Homo sapiens: one gene and its partners. The protein of the gene in region 3 interacts with the protein of the main gene of each other region in a biochemical or structural test. Each region holds a gene or a part of one and is shown on either strand. Other genes may lie near its edges.

Region 1 (7,024 bases), on a different chromosome or scaffold from region 3:
AGTCTCCACACACGCACACAGACTGGCACAAGCTAGCAGGGCATTTCTGGAAGTGATCCAAGTCCTCCTTATCTGCTCACCACCCCATGTCCATTGACGAAATAAAATGTAAAAGTTCACAAAGCAAACAAATCGTCTCCCACTTACTGGCTGATGCTTGAAATGCTTCCTTTAGAGAACATTTTTATAGTTCATAAAGAAAAATCTTAGTTATGAGAGACAAATCAATGCTGTCAGATCACGCACAAATATACTCCTGGAAGGAGCCGGGGGAGATCAGGGCACCCCAGAGGGTGCTGCAGAAGAACAGGGGTGGGGGCAGGGGAGAGACAAATTGCATTGTGTTCAAAATTTGTTCTGGTGCCATCTGTACAGTATGGAGATGTCGCTCACTGACCCTTCACTCAAGACACTAGACAAATTTTGGTAAAGCATGAACATTTATATTTAATTTACATTTTGACAATTTGCACATAAATAACATTGTAAACCAGTATGTAAACATAAGATAGTTTGTTGTTCTAGCAAAGTAAAAAGCCAGTAACTTTGGTCAGTTTTAACTTTGAGTAGAGGAAAAAATAAAACCACTGTTGATTGTGGGCTCAACATTCACATGTAAGAGGCAGAAAAGAGAAGGATGGATGGTGAGAGAAGCAAGAAGTCTTTATAAAAATTCTCACTATGGGAAAGCACAAAAGGAGAAAAAGAACAAACGAGTAGTTGGGAATCAAAAGTATTTGGTCTAATGTCAACGTGATGCTTTGGTTTACCTTCAGTTAAGGACTGTGTTTATCAAACACTGATACATAAAAAGCTGTCAGTCTTGGAAGTTACAGAAGACCAGTAAGGCTCTTGGGTTTCCCTGGATTATTCGAAATTTGTTCTCTTCTACAGGTGAACATTAGTTGATGTGAACAAAATGTCAAATATAATTATAAAATAGATTGGAGTAATGTATCAGTATTTAGTAAGGAGGAAAACAGAAAAATTGCAGCGGTAAAGTCAGTTTTTTATTTCTGTGACTTGGGTGTGACCACATAATCATAAAGTGGCAAAAAAAAAATAGAGCTGTCTTAGATGGTCCTTAATACTAAAAAATGATGTATCTCTTCCTCCCTGGTTGTTTTGTGGTCCCCACCACTGCACCAAGGTTTTAGGGTCTCTTACAGTAGGCAAGGGTGCCCAATCATACCGACGTGATTGTGAGGTCACCAAGTATTAAGCAAAGTCTCAGAAAGGAGTGTTCTTTTTTTTTTTTTTTTTTTTTTGCCCTTAGAAAAAGTAGATCTTTTACATGGCTTGGCTCACAATTTAAGTGGTTATAAATATATATACATATGATATAGTGGTATAAATAGATTTATAAATATACATCATTTTTTGCTACACTTTGAACACCAACATGTAATCTTTGGGCTTAGCAGAATAAAAGATAGAATAACACAAAGTCTATCTTGCTGGAGCACATTTACTCGGTTTCTCCTCTAGAGAAGCAAATCATTAGATAAGACATCATTTCCTGCACTACTGGACACACTCAATGAGGTAACTGTTGTTGAACAACTTTGCAATGCCCTTTCATCTTCCATTAAATTAACCATAAAATGTAAAAACACAAATACTGAGGAAAATCTGAGTTTTACAGAAAAAATACAATTGATGTGTTGGGGATAGGAATGTTCATTACCCGCTTTTACCCCAAGATGACTAGAATACCCGTTTTTTGTTGTTTGTGTGTTTGTTTTTAAAGTGTGGCCTGAGCCTATCTACCTCGAATCCTTCCTGGTAGAGCACCATGTTTGTGCAATTTTGACATTAAAAAAAAAAAAAAAAAAAAAGCAACAAAAACCAACAACAAAACACCACCCAGACTCAAGCCCCCAAATCGCACACACACAAAGCCACCTATGCTTTGGGGAAATTTTCGCAGTGGTTTTAAAACATGGCATTTTTTTCTTCTTCACATTTTCTGATAATACAATGGATGCAAAAGTCATGTGGCCGCTCTGAATGGCCACAGGACTCGGTGGGGAGGGCAGGGCGGTGGGAGGATTCTGCTCTTTTGGAGGGAGAGACAGGTTGGTAAAGCCTTCCTGTCACCCTTCCGGTAAAATTGTGGCTGGGGGAAAAACATGAACTATCAACAAAAATATACAAGATTCCCTTTCTTGTTTCTTCTACTTAAGTTATTCTTGGGTAATCCTGCACACATACCCCCAAGTTATGTACAATGCTGTTCAAATGATAGGATCCCAGGAATGAACACATCAACTGTCCAACATTGGCAATTACCCAAACCTCATTTTCAAACCATTATTAGAGAGAGAGGTTGACTGAAGTCATATATTTGTTTAACTAAATCTTAGGTACTTATACAGATGTGCAGAAATTATCTACAAAGAATGGCCACAAGACAAAAATACATTTATACTCAAATTACAAGGAATCTTTCCAGTCATTGTAAACTTTTTTAATTATTGCTTTCTGAATGATAAATTGTATAATAAATTATGAAGGATTATCATTGAAAAAATAATTATGACTAGGTAATAGTCTTAGTAATGGGAAGGCTATGCAAACATGTCCACACAAATATTCAAAATACACAGGGGCAAATATATAGACACAGGTGTAAATAAGTATATATAATATGTATACAGATATATATATATATATATATATGGCCTTTGCCTTGTTCATGCCCTGAGATTTCAGTAACTTTGGAGTTCCTTCTTTAATTCCAGAGGTGAGGGGAAACCATTTGCTGTCGAGAGAGCTTTGCAGAGCTGGGATTATGTACAAGCCACTTCCTACAGGCACCCTGACTCACCAAGTCATAACTTAAGAAACAAAATAAGTGTTTTCTGAAAATCTTAAGGATCCATTGGTTCAACTGTTTCTTGTTTGACCTTTACAGGTACCAGAGGTAGTGGGTTGCTGGGAGGCAACTTCATGAGGGGTAGATCTGATGACTCATAAAGGCTGCACCCTGAGGAGAGGAGTCCATTCCCCATGTTTCTTTGCAAAGACACTTTCAGGCCAGTTTCTTCTTTCTCTTTTCTGACCACGGCCAGAATTTCCTTCTCCACTACAGAGATCACACTGATGTCATCCTCCACGTCCTCGAGCCGGTCAGCATTGTCACTGATGTCAAACTTCTCGATTTCTTCATTGATTCGGGTCAGATCTTCCAAGGGCAGCCCAGGCGCCGGGGCCGCAGCGCAGTTCCCTTTCAGGTGAACCTTGAGGCTACAGAGATGGATGTAGTTCTTGTGGCACTGGGAGCACTTGTGGGGCCGCTCCCGGGTGTGCAGACGCTTGTGCAGTTTCAGGTGCACAAACTGGGTGAACTTGGCAGGGCACACCTTGCATTGGTATGGTTTCTCTCCAGAATGGAGTCGCAGGTGGGTCTTGAGATTGCTGGTGCTGCTAAATCTCTTGTGGCAGACCTACAGTGTAGGGGAGAGAGACAGCAGGGAAGGGAGACAGGAAGGCCAGAAGATTAAGAGTTGCCAACGGGAGGGGCAGGCTTACCGGCCAACGCCCAGCAACCTAGGAGGTGAGAAGCCTCCTTGTGGCACCTCCAGTGTGGTATTAAGCAAACGGGGGGATGTGGGCACACAGCACACGAGGGGCTGTTTATTTCCCCTACCATTTTCCCACCCACTGGAAGCTGGCTGTGCCATCTCAAGTCATCAGCAGATACAAAGTACTGGGAAGGACCATAGTGCCATCAGTCCAGGATGGGACAACGCAGAATCTGGTGTTGGCTTTAACTACGGGCTATATAGGACATGGGAGGGTGACTCACAGACATTTTCTACAAAGGTCAGAAGGTCTACCCAGAAAATACTGCGCACCTGGCATTCATGTGGCTTTTCTCCCGTGTGTACCAGGTAGTGTTTCTGCAGGTGGGCGAGCTGAGTAAAGCCCTTGTTGCAAGTCTGACATTTGAAAGGCCGTTCTCCACTGTGCACTCTCAGGTGGACCTGGGAAGAAGCCACATGTGTTAGCTCTGCTCTCAAGCTGGCTCTGAGACCTAACATTTCTGCTCCAAGACTCAAGTGTTGATGCAAATATCTTAAGAAAAGCATCAAGACAGTCTTAAAAAGAAGAAATCTTCATGTTTTCAGAATGGTGTTTTTCTTAAAAGCACAAAAATCACAGGCTAGCAGGGAGTTTCACCTAATCTTCTAGTCCAAACCCCTAATTTTTTTATTATTCAGAAGAAAATCAGGAGAAGGGAAGTCACTTGTCCAAAGTCAAAGAGCTAGAAGTGGCAAAAGCCAGGCGGAATCCATACCCACTATCCCCAACCGGGGGCTCATACTACTGCAAATGCAATCGATACCCCATGGAAAGCAAGCTAAATACAAACACAAGCATGCACTCACAGCCCCTTGGACTGCTCTCTCTCAAGGCCTACCTTCAGATTGGAGAGCTGGCCGAAAGTCTTGGCGCAAACGTTGCATTCGTACTTGATCTTGCCGTTCTGCTTCTTCAGCGGGTAGGGAAGGGTCTTGTAGCCGGTCATGTTTCTTTTGTTTTTAATGAGATTCATGGCTTCGTCGCTGCTGGGGGCTGCCATCGCTGCTGAGGTAGCTTTGGGCTGCACCACATGTTCTGCCGTGGCGGCTGTTCCCGCCGTGGGAGACCCGCTTGTGGGGCTACAGGCCTTGTCCTTCATGCTGGCGGCGGCCCCGGTAAAGGAGAAGGCACTGTGGGGCGCCGGGACAAGCACCTCCCTGGGATGCTCCGGCTGGAGCAACCTCCGGGCTCCATCTGAGGGCAGCGAGCTCGGGAGAGAAGTGGGGTTGAGCATGGGGTGGGGCAGGCTGCCCCCACCGAGGAGATTGCTGTAGACAGGGCACAGCCTCGGGAAGAGGCCAAAGTTGTTGATGCCATTCATGCTGCTCACAGCGCTCAGGCCATTACAATTCATGCCGTAGGGGGGCAAGAGGAACTTGGGGTAGTGAGCGTTGTACGAGGGGATGAAAGCTGGCGGGAGGTGGGGCAGGGGTGCGTAGCCAGGGTAGGAGCCCAAACCTTCCGTGCCGTAGGACGCGTTCAAGTAAGCGTAGGAGTCCCGGTGCTCTTGAGAGCCGGGGCCCACAGGGGACACCGTATTCCCAGGGCTGCTGTGAGGGCTGGAGCTCTTGAGGCTTTGGTCGGGGCTGCTTCTTGCAGAGGGGCTTGGAGTGGTGGAGGATGGAATGGGGGAGCGAGTGATGTACGTGGGTCTCTCGATCCCGTAGGCCAGGGAAGCTTTCAAAAAGTCTTCTGGCAGAGGGGCCCGGATGGGGTAAACGACCCGAGGGTAGAAGGGCATTTCGGGGCTCCCACGTCTTCTAAAGTCATCGAGGTCCTTTTCTGATGTGAGGGGTGAAATGTTAGAACGGTAGAGGTCCTTTCCTTTGGAGGGGTTGGAGTCCAATTTTAGGATTTCTTTCACGCTGTACTCTCTCTTTGGGACATTCTTTGGGCAGAGTTCATTTTTCTCAGTGCTCGGTTGCTTTAGACTGCTCTGTGTTTGTGCTGAAATAAAGAAAAAGGGGCGATTACACAGAGGGCTAGAGAGAACTGAAGCAAAACTGCCAAAGTTGCTCCTCCTTCTTGAGAAAACCTGAGTAACAGCTGGCGACACAATCGCCACATATCTGGCTTCCAACGCACTCTCATTCTAGAAGGCTCTGGGCCACTCACTCAAAAGTGCAGTTCCGTTTCCTCCTCAGCAAAATGCGGACAATGGCAGCACAGACAGAACAAACAGCAGCCTTGGGTGATTCTGTTTTCATTAGTACAGACCTTATGATAGAAAATTGCTGTTTAGGCTGGAGTAAGATAGCCTAAGCTGGATGCAGTGGCTCTTGCCTGTAATCCCAGCACTTTGGGAGGCCGAGGTGGGCGGATCACCTGAGGTCGGAAGTTCGAGACCAGCCTGACCAACATGGAGAAACCCCATCTCTACTAAAAATACAAAATTAGCTGGGCGTGGTGGCGCACACCTGTAATCCCAGCTACTTGGGAGGCTGAGGCAGAAGAATCGCTTGAATCTGGGAGGTGGAGGTTGTGGTGAGCCGAGATTGTGCCATTGCACTCCAGACTGGGCAACAAGAGCAAAACTCTGTCTCAAAAAAGAAAAAAAAAAAAAAAACTTCCATTTTAATGGAGTGGAAAAATACTGGGGTGGGGACCCTGTCATAGGTTAATAAAAGTCTTTCTGATGTTCATGGTTTACCTAAAGGAAATCAGCATACCCTGAGAACTAAATGTGAAAGATTAAGACTCATTTCAAGTAATACACAGTCATCAATTTTCGCTTCTACTCTTGTTGAATACGAATTTGATAAAGCCCTGTTCAAACTGCCTATGCCAAGGAGCTTAGCGAAGTGAATACCACCTTCCTCGCGATGTGCAGACAGCCTAAGCACTTCACCAAGGCTCTGTCTGGTCTAGCCAGGATCCCAGCAGTGCTGGCCCCTGGAGTCACAAGGCGTGACAGTCACCTCTGCCAAACCACAATAGGTACTTCCTGAGCCAGTTCAATTACTTAGCGCACCCAAGAAAACAGAACAGGCTAAGAGGAAAGCACTTATTCCCAAAGACGGCACGTTATTACTTGGTAAAGATACTATTTAGGAACAGCAGCAATGAGGACAGTTCTAGACTATCCCTGCCACAGCCAGCCCTGTCTCCTCGCTACACAATAAATGATGCCTTCAGGAAAAAACACCCATCTGGGCAGGGAAAACTGAAAATTCCCTGCTCAGCCTTGCCTGGAAACCAAAAGTAAAACATACGATGTTTAGTTTGAGCTCTGATTATTGGAGGACAGTCACTCAAGCCAGGACACCTGCCCTAGGAACGCACTGAAGGCATTGGCTGTCAATGTGTGGAGATGCCTTCAGAGGCAGCAGGTTTGGGGGATCATGCTGAAGCCTTTGTGCAAATATCCTTCATCGTCTAAAAAATGTCTCTGCTTGAATTTAGTTGAGAAAGAACTCCACACTTGCTATCTGATAGG
Region 2 (7,177 bases), on a different chromosome or scaffold from region 3:
TTTTTGTATTTTTAGTCAAGACAGGGTTTCACCGTGTTAGCCAGGATGGTCTCGATCTCCTGACCTTGTGATCCTCCCGCCTCGGCCCAAAGTGCTGGGATTACAGGCGTGAGCCACCGTGCCCTGCCTGCCCTTGGACTATTGACTTAGGTATTCTCCATCATCTTGCACATTGCAAAGGTGGTTGTCGAATTTGGTGGAAAGGTTTAGTCCTTAGAACTCTGCTTTTCTCCTCAAGAGTTCCCTCCCTCAGAGATTCTATCTGTTCTCATTCATTCTATCTAGGTCCACCTCTATGTGGATGTCAGCTGATCTCCCTCAAAGGCACTTCTCCAGGATTTATTCTCTCTAGGTATAACATTTAGTTTTGCCTATACAGTTAATTTTGCTCCAGTCTTCCCAATTTCCCTTTCATCATCCACAGCACCATTGATTTCCTGATGCTGCACATTTCCAGTCTTGGAATTACCTTTGATTCTTCTTAAGCTTGTCACTTCCAAATTATTTTCCAAATTCTCTTCACCCTAACTCCACTGGGCCCATTAACTTTGTCCACTGTTTCCTCCTCTCCCTTCTCTGTCCCTATGTGACACCGGAGCCAGATTTTCTCTTTCGTTGGGTGTGTAAGTATCCGACTCGCCTCCTGCCCGGGCGTGTTGCCGGAGGATGTGGCCAGCAGGCTGAACACACATGACAACGTGAGGCTCAAAGTCAGGAAGGAATCCTTAGCGATTATTTTACAGTTGAGGGATGAGATGCCCGGGGTGGACAACCCTCTGGTTTCGGTCACAATCAGCCAGCCTCTCGCGCTCCAGCACCCCCTCTATTGCTTCGCCGTGGTCGGTGTCTTCTTTCCTTCACACCTTTGGTACAGACCCAGCCGGCACCGCGCGCAACGCCGCTAGAGCCCCTCAGAGCCCCAGCTCCCGACCACCCGCCGGAGAATTTCGAGTCCCTCAGGAAAGCAGCTCCCATTGGCCAGCCCGGCCCCCTCCCCGCACCTCATTGGCTACTGTCCTGCAGGTCCCGCCCTCTCGGCGCCTCAGGTTCCAGCGAGGGCGTAACGGCAGTGAAGTGAAAAATGGCGGGAAAGGCCGCCTCTGAGCTGGCCGTGCATCTGCGCAACGCTGGCTTGGGAGCCGGCCGGTGGTGGAGGAGCCCTCGACGACAGCCTCAAGGCCTGCCGCTCCTCACGCGCCCGGCTGCCACTAGACCATGGACGCAGGCAGCCGCGCGCTCCACCGCTCCGGGCCCGGCGCTCCACGCCGATCGGACGGGCGTCGCTCACACCACCGAGGCGAGCCCGGACACTGAAGCCACTTTGTTGTCCTCGGCCCAGGGCTGCAGGTTCTGCAGCGCGAAGAGCGACGAGTTGTGCAGGCAGAGAGGGTCCGGGGGCAGCGGCGGCCGCAGCGGCCGTGGCAACGCGTCCTGCTGCAGATGCAGGAGCAGCCGGCCCGCGCGGTGCCGCTCGGCCTCGCGCTCCTCCGCCGTCTGGCGCCTAAGGGAGGGAGACGCGGGGTCAGCGGGGCGCCCGCCGCGTCGCTTCTCACCAGGCCCTGCTCGGGAACCCCAGTCCGCCCTCGCCCGCGCCGCGCCTCACCGCCACTTGGTGCGTCGGTTCTGGAACCACGTTTTGACCTGTGCGTCGGTCATGCGCAAGGCCTTGGCCAGCGCCGCCCTCTCCGCAGAGGCCAGGTACTTCTGGCGCAGGAAGCGCCGCTCCAACTCCAGCACCTGTGAGCGGGAGAAGGACGTGCGCGGCTTCTTCCGCTTCGGAGGGGTCCGGTTTTGGTAGGGGTGGCCTATGCGGCGCGTCCCAGAGAAGGGCGAGAGCGCAGCTACCGGGAGGAAGAAAGACCAGGGCAGGATTTGCAGGGTGGCCCGAGGTGCCACTGAGAAGGCCGCGCGGCTGTCCAGGCCGCAGAACTCCCGCGCCCTGTCCTTACCCGGGCCCTAAGCATCAGCCGAGCCCTATAGCCAAGAAAGGCCCTTCCCCTGGGATGCGAGGGAGACGTCCCCTGTAACTTCACCCTCCCCTCCCCACGCGTGGACAGTGGGACTACAGAGGAGGGCGCGGGCACCGACGGCAGCTCCCTCCCCATCACCTCTCGGAGGCAGGACCCAGAGATTTGAGTTGGGGGAGGATCCCCTGGGAGGATCTAGTGGGAGGTGTGAAAGGGGTCCTTGAGTTGGAGCAGAAAGCTAAGAAATGAGGAGACGGGGTCAGAGTCGGGCGTGACGCTGGAGGGGTCAGACAACCTCACCCGTGAGCCGGTCCTTGGCAAAGCGGCGGCCGCTGTCCATCCAGGGGAAGGTGAGTCCCGCTAGGCCTCCGGCGCCGCCCAAACCCGAGGGCCCAGGCACTGCAGGCGCCCCCCCAGCGGGCGGCGGCACAGGCAGCGGGCGGTGCGCAGGGACGCGGATCACGCCGCCTGGGCCCACTCCGGAGCTGCCGGGCAGCGGGGCAAGTGAGCCGGCGGGACCGTAGCCCGAGGCTCCGTGGTATCCACCCGAGAACGCCCCATTCTCCCCATGACCCTGGCCCCCGCGACCCAGGCCTAGACCGCCCCCTGGGGTTTCGGGGCCGCTCAGGATCTGATCGATGCCGAAGCTGATTGGCTCGTGGTGTGGGAGGTTGTGTGGACCCAGCATCCCCGGCTCCATCGGTCTGGGCCGAGGAGAACCGCCGGAGGTTCGGTGGTTGGGGAGGATGCCTCAGGCAGCGCCAGAAGCCCAGCGGCGGCGCGCTCCGGAGAGTGGCCTCAGGGGCCCGCGGGGCTGGCCAAGGCAGGGCGCCGGGGTCCCCGAAACAGCAGCATCCCTGTGCACCCGGAGCAGCCGCGCCCGTGCCAGCCGCTGCCGGGCGTCAGCGCAGGGACTTGCATCCCGGGGGAGCACGGCCAGCTGGGGCCCCTGGAGCTTCCTTGCTGGCTCTTAAGCGCAAATAGACGCTGGGCTGCCGGCGCCGCTGCCCAAGTCCCGGGTGGAGAGGGTTGGCCAGCTCCGGCTGGGGCAGTGACTGACGGATCGGCCCGGGTGGGTAGTGGGGGCTGGGGGTAGGGCAGGGGCGGGGCCCAGCAGTTAAAGGGGAAGGGACGCCTGTTTGCGCCAAGCGCAGGGGGAAGGCTGGCTGGCGGAGATGTGCGGGGAGGGGGACAGGGGGCCAGGGTGTTAGGAGCCAGGCTCAGCGCGGGAGGGGCCCGAGCATGGGCCGCTGAGTCAGCGGAGATGCTCACCGCGCCTCCATCCTTGCTGGCCTCCGCCTTTGGGCGGCCTCCGCCTTTGGGCTGCCTCCGCCTCACCGGCTTCCTCCGCAGGTGCCTCCTCCCCCAGCCCCCACTCTTCGCCTCTCGATGGATCCTTCTGGCCAACTCCCGGATTCGTTGTGGTCCCCGCCTAAATGCTCTCGAAGACCAAATCTCGTTGTGGTTTCCCGGCTGCGTAAGAAGCGGCTGGGGAACGGCGCCCGGTGAGCTGCAGGCCCAGGAAGAGAACAGGTGTGGGAAGGGGACGGCAGGGGCTAAGGGCGGGGAACGGCCGCTTTGGGCTGGCGATCGTGGTGCGCCTTCTGGCCTCTCCTGTAGGTCCCCCCAGCCCTGTTCATGCGCACCGGTAATTGGTGTCCTGTGTTTCCTAGAATTTCGATTTTCCAAAATCCGTGTAAAACGGACCATGGCTCAACCCGGGCCAAATCAGGCCGGCGGGTTCTTGGGGCTGGCACTTACCCCCGGACCCCAAGTGCAGGGAGTCCTCAATGCAGGACTCTGCCCCTCCATTCTGTGCCTAGGAAGTCTGTTCTCACACTCTTCCTCCTCAACGGCGGGAGGGCGAAATCTCGCCACGGGGGACACGTGGGACCTCACTGAGGCCTTGGTTGGATCCTGGCCGCCTTGTTTCCCATAAACATTTTACCCCACCCAAACTCAAAAAATGGCCTGGAGCTGTCAGAGAAGGGAGGTGGGGAAAGACCTAAGCCGCTTGGTGACCTTGTGACCTCTGGCCATGAATCCAGGAGCCGGGAGTGCGTGAACTCTGCGTCCTTCCCGGGGATGGGACCCCCGCGGGCGGGCCCCTGAGCCTTAGACCCGCCCCCGCCGCCGCCCTGCCCGGTGCAGGCCGCGGTAATCGGGTTAGCTGGGCCGGAATTACATTACCTTCCCCGGCCCGCCCCGGCCCCCGGGGGGGCCCTGGCGCCTCTGAGCCGGTGAGACTGGGCTCAGAGAGGGGGGCGCTTCTACCATCCTGCGGTGGCGGTGGCGGGTGGGCACCAACGAGCAGCTCAGCCTACCTCTGACACGTGGTGGCCAAAGGACCTTACCCTGCTGTGCCAGCCCTCTACCCTCGTCCCGAGCCCACCCCGCTGTTCAGCTCCATCCTGCTGGTTCCCGTGTGAACCGAAATGCTTTGTAAGTCTACTAGCTGGATCTCCCTGGGAGCACTGATCTTCAAACTGATTCTCCAGGATCCCCTGGGAAAGACTCTGCCCCCTCCTTTCTCCCCAGCAGATGGGCTGGCAGCCTGGCGCCTGGGGCAGGGTGAAGGGGTCTTTTCTCCCCTGGGAACCAGGAATGATATTTGGGCATCTGGGCAGAAAGATAAAGAAGAGAAAGAAGGGTGAGCTCTGTCCACCAGCCCTTCAGTGTTCTCTGAAGCCTTATATCTAGAGGAGGTGAACCATAAATGGGACAGAGGGCAGTGGGAGGAATAGTGGGCATTAATATGTGTCAACCTGCCAGGCGCGGTGGCTCACGCCTGTAATACCAGCACTTTGGGAGGCCGAGGCGGGTGGATCACGAGGTCAGGAGATTGAGACCATCCTGGCTAACACGGTGAAACCCATCTCTACTAAAAATACAAAAATTAGCTGGGCGTGGTGGCGGGTGCCTGTAGTCCCAGCTACTTGGGAGGCTGAGGCAGGAGAATGGCATGAACCCGGGAGGTGGAGCTTGCAGTGAGCCGAGATCGCGCCACTGCACTCCAGCCTGGGCAACACAGCAAGACTCTGTCTGAAAAAAAAAAAAAAGTGTCAACCTCCCCCACCTTGACCACTCTACTATCCAATTTGTCCAGCCCCTCCTCAGCCCTGCTAACAGCCCGTTCTGAAAGAGGGTGGGGGCTCCTACCAATTTAGCAGATGTATTTTCATCTTGATGGAGAAGACAGACATTATCACCTCCCGTCTCTTTACAGAAACCCATGCACTTTTCTCAGCAGTAGAGAGGGCTACAAGGAAGCATGAACCTGTTTAGTCCAAATCTTCAGGCCGGGAGCAGTGGCTCATGCCTGTAATCCCACCACTTTGGAATGCCAAGAGGGGACGGATCACCTGATGTCAGGAGTTCAAGACCAGCCTGGCCAACATGGTGAAACCCCGTCTCTATTAAAAATACAAAAAAATTAGCTGGGCATGTTGGCAGGTGCCTGTAATCTCAGCTACTGGGGAGGCTGAGGCAGGAGAATCACTTGAACCAGGGAGGCAGAGGTTTCAGTGAGCGGAGATCACCACTGCATTCCAGTCTGGGGAAACAGAGCAAGACTCCATCTCAAAAAAAACAAACAAACAAACAACAACAAAAAAAACTTCCTTGGTACCAAGGGCTGGATTCCTCCAGATGGGAGCAGGAAACCTAGGGAGACAGCAAAGAAATATAATCTCTGAAGAGGGCTGGTGTGCAGGTTAGGAGTTTGCTAGTCCCATTCTCTGCTCTGAAGGTTGAGTCTGGGGGCAGGGGGGCAGGGTAACCAGTGTGTCTCCAGCCAACCTAAATAAATCCTCCTTGAATGAATCAGTGAGTGAATCAACAAATGAAAAAAAGGCAACATCATGCAGACCCGTACACCCCTGCCGTTTGAGTTCAGCACAGATGGTACTGCCACCCAGGGACTGTCCAACTAATCCTTTAAGGAGAATGGTCACAAACTCAGTAGTTCATACAAGTGTTCTGGAGAGTTTTTAAAATATTTTAGTGCCCCACTTCAAGAACAGATGGCATCCAGTTACGTCACCCAGACCACAGTCCTAGGACTTTCTCTTTTTTTAAGAGACAGAGTCTCGCTATGATGCCCAGGCTGGCTGGCTGGCCTCAAACTCCTGGGCTCAGACAATCCTCCCACTTTGACCCCCTGAGTATCTAGAGTTACAGGTGTGCACCACCACCCCAACCTGGCTTGAAATGTCCTTTCTTGCCTCCTTGTCTCTGATTCACGGGGAAAGGATGGTTCCTGCTGGTTTATATTCAAGATTGGCTAGGCGCGGTGGCTCATGCCTGTAATCCTAGCACTTTGGGAGGCCTAGGTGGGTGGATCACGAGGTCAGCAGATTGAGACCATCCTGGCTGACACGGTGAAACCCCGTGTCTACTAAAACTACAAAAAATTAGCCGGGCTTGGTGGCGGGCACCCGTAGTCCCAGCTACTCGGGATGCTGAGGCAGGAGAATGGCGTGAACCCGGGAGGCGGAGCTGGCAGTGAGCCGAGATCGCGCCACTGCACTCTAGCCTGGGTGACAAAGCGAGACTCCATCTCAAAAAAAAAAAAAAAAAAAAAAGACGAAGATAGAGGTGCTGGAATGAGTGCCCCCTCATACACACTGCTTTGGATCTGTCTCACCATGTCCTGTGTGTCCGTGGCTCTCATCAACTTAGTCTTTCCTACCCCTCAGCTGTCTCAGATCTTTATCATCTGGACAAAATCTTTGCCTGAGTCTTCAAGAGAGATCATGCTTTTCCTTTCCTTTTTACTTCATGCCTACTGCCTCCATTTCATCATGATTTATTCTTGTTTTAACTCAGTGCAAGCTGCCTTCATTATAGTAACCCTTTCTCAGAGAGCTCCAGTGTTCAGTATCCCTCCTCCAGGACTTCCCTGGCATGTTTTACTTTGTTGGTCATCAATTATTTTTTGAAGTGTCCCTTCTTTTTGCTTCTGTAATATCTTATTCCACATCTTTGGACTTTCGTAGTCACTGCTTATGTTTTTCCTCCACTGATTTTCCTTCTTCCACTGAAGACTGTGAGGATTCTTCAGAGCTCAGACTTAAGCTTTCTTTTTTCTTTTCTTTTTTTTTTTTTTTTAAGACATGGGATCTCACTCTGTCGCTCAGGCTGGAGTGCAGTAGCATTATCACGGTTCACTGCTGCCTCAACCTCCCAGGCTCGAGCAATCTTCCTAACTC
Region 3 (7,024 bases):
GGGATTACAGGTGTGAGCCACCGTGCCCGACCTTGATGACTTTCTTTCTCAGTTCCTGTAATTACTCCCACAGGTCACAGAAAGTGGAAGGCTACCACCTCCCTTTGTGATGTAAATGATGTGCCATCATTTACATGCCATCCTTCCTGTTCCTTTGGACAACTGGATCCAAAATCCTCAAGGTTCAAGTCAGGCTACTACTTAACGTTTGAATCCCCTCTACAACCCCACACCAAGTGGCCCTCCAGGCTATATGCCTCCAGCAGCAGGGAACTTACCACCTGTCTTAGGCTCATTTCCATTTTGCTCCATCGGGAGGAATGGTTAGGGCCCCTAGCCCGCCAAGACTTGCAATCCCAACTGCAGGTGGTGTTGGGCTTTGTTTAACTGTGGACTGATGGTGTCACTGGGGCCTTTGATTTCGGCCCATTCACCTTGGAGGATTCTTAGGCCACCTTAGGGCTCTGTTTTCAGTGGTGCCCAACAATGCCACTATAGACCTGAGAGAGTCCCTGTCAAATGTACTAGCAGGAAGTCACTGCTAGTGGGATCATGTGGGGCCCCAGCTTAATTCCCTCATCATTTAGTCTCCCCAGCTGTGGAATGAGACTGACTGAAAGCTTAGGGACACTAACTAGTCTTTTAGAATATCTACCCCTAGTCAGGATGATAGTGATGTTGGCCCAAATTCCTTTGGGGGTTATACTTTTTCTTTTTTTCAAACAAGGTCTTGCTCTGTGACCCAGGCTGGAATGCAGTAGTACGATCATAGCTCACTGCAGCCTTGACCTCCTGGGCTCAAGCCATCCTCTCGCCTTAGCCTCCCAAGTAGCTGGGACTACGGATGTGCAGGCCACCACATCTGACTAATTAAAAAAAATTATTTTTGTAGAGACGGGGTCTCGCTATGTTGCCCAAGCTGGTCTCAGACTCCTGGCCTCAAGCAGTCTTCCCGCCACCTCAGCCTCCCAAAGCATTGGGGTTACAGGCGTGAGCCACCATGCCCCACCTGATTATACTTTTCAAAGTGCTTTAGCCCCTCTATGGTATTTGACTTCACAGCAGCTCTCTAAATGCAGTTACTTGAGGGGAAATCCAAGGGGGAGAAGGAGATGTCCCCTGCTCAGTGAGGTCTGTCACAGTGTCTTCCCTCCTCCCCGTGGGCCCTGTGTGGCACCAGTAGAGTCACCAATGGCGAAAGCCAGTGTGGATCATCCCAAGGGCCTGGGAGCAATGTGAGATTTTTTCATTTGATGTGAACAGACACAATAACGGTTCACATTTATTGAACCTTTTCTGTGGTGAGGTATTGTGCCAAATCCTCTAAATATATTCCTTCATCTAATTCTTACGACCGCTCCATGTGAGAAGTACAGCCACCTCCATTTTACAGATGAAGAAACTGAGGTTCAGACTGGTGAAGTGACTTGTCCAAAGTCATGTGGACTTGGGGCAGGAGCCTGGACACGAGCCCAGCCTGCAGGCTTGCAGGCTCCTAACTACCAGCCTGTGCATCACCTCTCACTAAAAACAAAACCCAAGCCACGTACCCCGCAAACGCTTCATATCTGACTTGTGTGGAGGTGACAAAACCGATTCCTGAAGCTTTGTGTCTGGTGGGTGTGAGACACTCTCGCAGCTGCTCCCCAGTGTGAGGGCTGCCTCAGTCTCTCACCTGCCCTTTGAGGAGGTAGCAGGCTGAACAGTGTTCAGAACTCAGTGTGTCCTCAAATCAGCCAGGTGGGTTTGCCTGTAGGTGCTCAGAACCATTCGGGTTCCACTGACATCAGGGGCTTGGCTCTAGCCTCTCCCAATTTTTGAAGAACTAGACTCCCACATTTGCTCCCTCTAGCCACCAACAACTCTTCTCTACTTCCCTTCAGATTAATTGGGGTTGGGGAAGAAAATGTTCATTGCCCATGAAAATTATCTTGGAGAAGTTGGCTTCAGTAGCCTCTTTATAGGCTTGGGGGCTGCTTGGACAAGGAGGTTCTGTGTGTGTAGAGGGGCCCATGAATATTACCATTTGTTATTTTTAGTTTTTCCAGGAAATTTGTAATCATGTATCATTTTTTATTCTCTCCCCTCTTCCTCCTTCTCCTCACCCCATTCACTTGTGTCCCTCTTTTATTTCTCTTACTTCCTAATTCTTATATCATGCTTGCATGTCTTACATTCATCCTTCAAGACATGATTTGAATGTCACCTCTTCTAGGAAGCCTCCCATGATGTCTCCAGGCAATTTAGCAATTCCTCTGCTGCCCCTTGTGTATATCTTTATAACAGCTCTTAGAAAGTGAATGTCATTATTTACTCAAACATCTCCACTTCTTCACTGGATGGCAGGTAAGTCCCTGGAGAAAAGAACCTATGTATTCCATAGCTTAGCGTAGTGTTTGGCACATAGTAGGTGCCTGTATAATAGTTACAGAAGGAAGGAATGTTTCTTAAGCTTTTATGTCTCGTGTGACTTTAAAACAAAAATAACAACTGGGTGCGGTGGCTCACCCCTGTAATCCCAGCACTTTGGGAGGCTGAGGCGGCGGATCACGAGGTCAGGAGATCAAGACCAGCCTGGCCAACATAGTGAAACCCCGTCTCTACTAAAAATACCAAAAAAAAAAAAAATTAGCCAGGTGTGGTGGCGGGCACCTGCAGTCCCAGCTACTTGGGAGGCTGAAGCAGGAGAATGGCGTGAACCCGGGAGGCGGAGCTTGCAGTGAGCCAAGATCGCGCCACTGCACTCCAGTCTGGGTGGCAGAGCGAGACCCCGTCTCAAAAAGTTAAATAAATAAATAAATAAATAAAACAAAAATAACAATAACAACAATCTCTTGAAGAGGCTGTTGTATTTGTAAAACGTCCCTTCCTCAGCATCTTGAGAAACTTTCTGGACCTCTGTCTTTTGAGAAGTTTCCAGTCTGCCTTTCCTGCCTCCTTCTCCTTTCTGAAGAAATTCTCATTGAATACAGAGAGGCAGCACAGACTGGAAATGCTGCATAAAGCTTAAATTGGGCAGGGCCCAAGCGTTGTTGGGTCTTTGGAGACAATGGCTCCTGAGAATTTTTTTAGGCTTTCCAGGAACTACAGAGAGTTGCTTCATGTCAGGAACACAAATTCTTAAAGAGCTAGTCACCAAGTATGGGGGGCCAACCCATTCTTGGAAAGGTCTCTCGCTCTAAGCAGCAAACAGCTCTCATGTTGCTTCTTCCAATCTATTCATGTAATGCTCCCAACAAAAGCACAAACACCACAATATGAAATGAACACCTAAAACCATTCCTTTCACCAGCCCAGGGACATTGAGACAATAAATACTGAAACAATCACTTCAGAGCAGTGTGTAACAGAAGACAAGAGTCATTTTAAAAAGCAACAGGGAAAAAACCCAACCCAGAAACCCAGATAGTGGTGGAAATTAACATCTTGATAAAGACAGAGAAGCCTAGATAAAGCCAGAGGATAGTGTGTGGGGAGAGTGAAAACCGATACAAATTTTCCAGGAAAAGGATTGGATCAAAGTAATGAAAGTGTAATGTCAAAGAATACTTTCCTAAAATACAGACAGTATGTCATTCCTACTCTTGTTATTCATAGGCAGTTCAAACTTCTCTAGACGTACTTCAAAACAAAAACCTTTTAGAATTATTGGGTGGGAGAAATCTTGGGACAGAAAAAAAACTTTGGGATGGGAATGGGGATGACAAGAATTGATGGGTCAGAGTTCCAAATGCAGATGCTTTTCCTGTGCCCTGCCTTAGCCAGAAATAGCTTCTTCATGAGCAGGGCCACCAGCTGAGGTCCCCACACTCTACCAGTGTTGGTAAATGTGGGTAAACACCTTAAATTGCCTCAGGATTCAATCCCTCCCACTATCCTCCAAGAACAGGGTGAAGTTCTGAATATATCTCTCTATACAAATGCATTCTATTGTTGATACTTTTTCCAGAGAGGAGGAAATTAACAGTAATAGTAATCAATATTATTGACTGCAACGAAATGTCTTCTTTGGAAATTGACTGATGGTCACGTATCAAGGGGAGATGCTGGGTTTTCTCTCAGGGAAGACATTTCACTCTGTCACCTACTTGGTTTCAAAGAGAAGGAGGTGGAAGGAGGGGCCAAAAAGTTTAAGGTATGCTGCATACACTGACAGGCTCCTCAGAGCAACTGGCTGGGTAGCAAGGGGGCTGTGACTGAAGAACATGACAGAAGCCAATCCATTGTACAGCAACCACCAAGGCCAAATCTACTTGCCACCTTCCTCATATCTGCCAAGTGCTCACAAGGCCTTGTCGATGAAAGGGAAACTGAGGCAGCCAATGGGGTGAGAGGGCAAAGGTCACTTCAGGTTGAGGCAGAGGCAGGATGAAAACACTTACGTCGGAGGATCTCTCGTTGCTTTCTGACGTACCAGGTGTACAGAGCGGCACGCTTCTGGGTCTTCATAGGGGTGCCCTTGTTGAGATGCTGGGAGAGGTGCGACTGGTTCAGGCCGGTGACATCGACCACCTCCCTCTGGGGGATGTTGTGTTGCTGCATGTAACCCTTGATCATTTTAGCAGCCCTCCAAGGGTCCTCACTAGACAGACAAGCAGATGGTTAGGGTACTAGTGGGAGACATCTGGGGAGAAACATTCTTTTTCTAGGGGGTGCTACCTATGGTCTATGCAAAATTCTGAATTTTCCCCCCATCTAAGCTACAACTTTGGGGTAGACATGAGGCCAAAATGGAAGCTAAACAGAGGAGAAGGTGACTGCCCCTGTACGGTACACCTCATCCCTTTCTTCTGAGGTTAGTGGGCAAAAGAGGACTTCCCATCTTCAGGAATAAAAAAGCACCACCACCACTCTCTCTTATTAAGCAAAAAGAAAAGCTCTTGTTTTATTTAATTAATTAATTAATTTATTTATTATTATTTTTTTTGATGTGGAGTTTTGCTCTTGTCACCCAGGCTGGAGTGCAACGGCATCTTGGCTCACTGCAACCTCCACCAGGATCCTGGGTTCAAGCGATTCTCCTGCCTCAGCCTCCAGAGTAACTGGGATTATAGATGCCCAGCACCACACCCAGCTAAATTTTTTATTTTTAGTAGAGATGGGGTTTCACCATGTTGGCCAGGCTGGGCTCACACTCCTGACCTTAGGTGATCCATCTGCCTCGGCCTCCCAAAGTGCTGGGATTACAGACGTGAGCCACCGCGCCTGGCCATTTTATTTTGCTTTCCTCCATTTTCCTGCAATGTGGGAGATTTAAAAGGCAGGAGGCCCACTGGAAAGTGGGGATGCCTTTAGCTTGGGGCTGGACTCCCTGATCCTACAATGAAGTAGGGATAGCATCAGTTTCTGAATTTGCCCAATTTTAGCTTCAACCTCTCCTACATTATTTTCCTTTTGAATGGGTATCTCCATTTCTTATAAAACAGGGGTGAAATGTATGTGTTCACCTTCTAAGAAGCAAGGAGGATGTCTTAGCCAAATAGTAAATAATTTTCAGAGTTTTAGAAAAGTTTTCCAAAATACAATGTTGTATCTCCTTGGGACGGGAGGATCACACCACTGAGGTGAGGCAAGTAGTTAAAAAAAAAAAAAATCCACAGCTCCACCTTCCAGACAAAATCTACTGGGCTAATGGGGACAAATAACTTCAATTTCGGACATTAACAATTTTAGATGCTTGTTTTCCTGTATTATGTTTCTCATAAATTTTAAATACTGGATAAGAACATGGTTATACTTTTCATTTCTCATAAACACAGGTGTGTAAACTGCTAGTTTTAGCACCTTTGAATTTTATTTGTCTAGAATGGTTTCAACTTTGCCAATATCTTTTCTTGCTTATTGAACAGATGCTTTGAAAAGAGAGATATAATTTAAAACTAGAAATTAAAATAGTGTGCAGCACAGAACAAAAGTACTAAAGAAGCAATATATACATGTTTACTATTTATTTAATGCAGGTACATATTTAACTTACAAAAACCAGCACCCCATTACTGTATGTTGATATATATATTAGCTTGATAGAACAAGAAAAAAAACGGAAGGGAAAACTAGTTTCAGGTGAAACAAAAAAGAAAACGGTGTAGAGGCTGAAATAGATACAGCATTGCAACATAATAAGCAATTTTATTTCTAAATGGCGCCTTTAAATATGTCAAATAAAATTAATTCTGTTTAATGAATAAAAATCCAGTAATCGAACATATTTTATAAGCATTTGGGTAGTTGTGATTATTTTATTAAGACTTTGATATTAAACTCGTGAGAACACAGGCTTTGATAGAGATGTTTTTGAGAAATGCAAACTTTTTATATTAATTATATATAAGAACGAATTTCTCAAGTATTTACAAAGGTAATTTCCAAGTACACAATATGAGGAAGTAACAAGAAGAACAAAAAATGAGAAAACGAGTTACAGTTTCAAACGTGGAGAATTCACATTAAGAGGAAAATAATGTAATAAACGTTTTAGACATATCCTTGTAAACATCACAGATCATTTAAAAGTTTATTTCTGGTCAATATTTCCACCGATATTTTTAGGATGGAAAAATACTTTCAACGGCTACGAACAAGACTCCTCGAACCTTAGGGGAAAAATTGCATTTTAAAAGTGAATATTGCTTTAGCAAATTCTTCGGCTATTTTTCTTTTGTTTAAATGCCTTTACCTGTGTTCATTTTGTATGCCTAAGAAACCTAGAAAAATAGGGTACTGTTCTAAGTGGGAATGATTCTGTGGAAACAGTGAATTAGCCCAACAATTGGGGAGGGTTTAAAAAAAGCCCCCAAGAACCTTATAAATAATGGCAAAACCTTTTAAGTCCGACTTAAAAGAGTGAGGAGTAAGATGGCGCAGTTATACCTTCACAACCCTCTGACCCCAAAATTCACGTGTGTTCACCGGGAAGAGCCGGGAGAGCTGGTTATTTTTGTTTGTTTGTTTGAAAACACAGCTCAGGTTCAGAGGTTCCCTAACACCGAGAAAGGCACCGGTCCCGAAGAGGGCCTGCGGCCAT

What was found.
Region 1: the proteins of HNF1B (region 3) and PRDM1 form a complex in vitro, tested with the Homo sapiens proteins (one study listed by BioGRID).
Region 2: the proteins of HNF1B (region 3) and TLX2 form a complex in vitro, tested with the Homo sapiens proteins (one study listed by BioGRID).

The regions. Positions count from the first base shown.
Region 1 is NC_000006.12:106,103,336-106,110,359, reverse strand, and holds the end of PRDM1 (PR domain zinc finger protein 1), read right to left. Parts: intron 5,536-7,024; coding exon 4,427-5,535; intron 3,990-4,426; coding exon 3,861-3,989; intron 3,450-3,860; coding exon 2,874-3,449; 3' UTR 422-2,873; downstream 1-421. UniProt on the Homo sapiens protein: Transcription factor that mediates a transcriptional program in various innate and adaptive immune tissue-resident lymphocyte T cell types such as tissue-resident memory T (Trm), natural killer (trNK) and natural killer T (NKT) cells and negatively regulates gene expression of proteins that promote the egress of tissue-resident T-cell populations from non-lymphoid organs.
Region 2 is NC_000002.12:74,510,297-74,517,473, reverse strand, and holds TLX2 (T-cell leukemia homeobox protein 2), read right to left. Parts: upstream 3,025-7,177; 5' UTR 2,668-3,024; coding exon 2,268-2,667; intron 1,842-2,267; coding exon 1,604-1,841; intron 1,502-1,603; coding exon 1,285-1,501; 3' UTR 326-1,284; downstream 1-325. UniProt on the Homo sapiens protein: Transcription activator that binds DNA elements with the consensus sequence 5'-CGGTAATTGG-3'. Binds DNA via its homeobox. Required for normal cell death of enteric neurons in the gastrointestinal tract.
Region 3 is NC_000017.11:37,735,058-37,742,081, forward strand, and holds part of HNF1B (hepatocyte nuclear factor 1-beta), read right to left. Parts: intron 4,583-7,024; coding exon 4,383-4,582; intron 1-4,382. UniProt on the Homo sapiens protein: Transcription factor that binds to the inverted palindrome 5'-GTTAATNATTAAC-3'. Binds to the FPC element in the cAMP regulatory unit of the PLAU gene. Transcriptional activity is increased by coactivator PCBD1.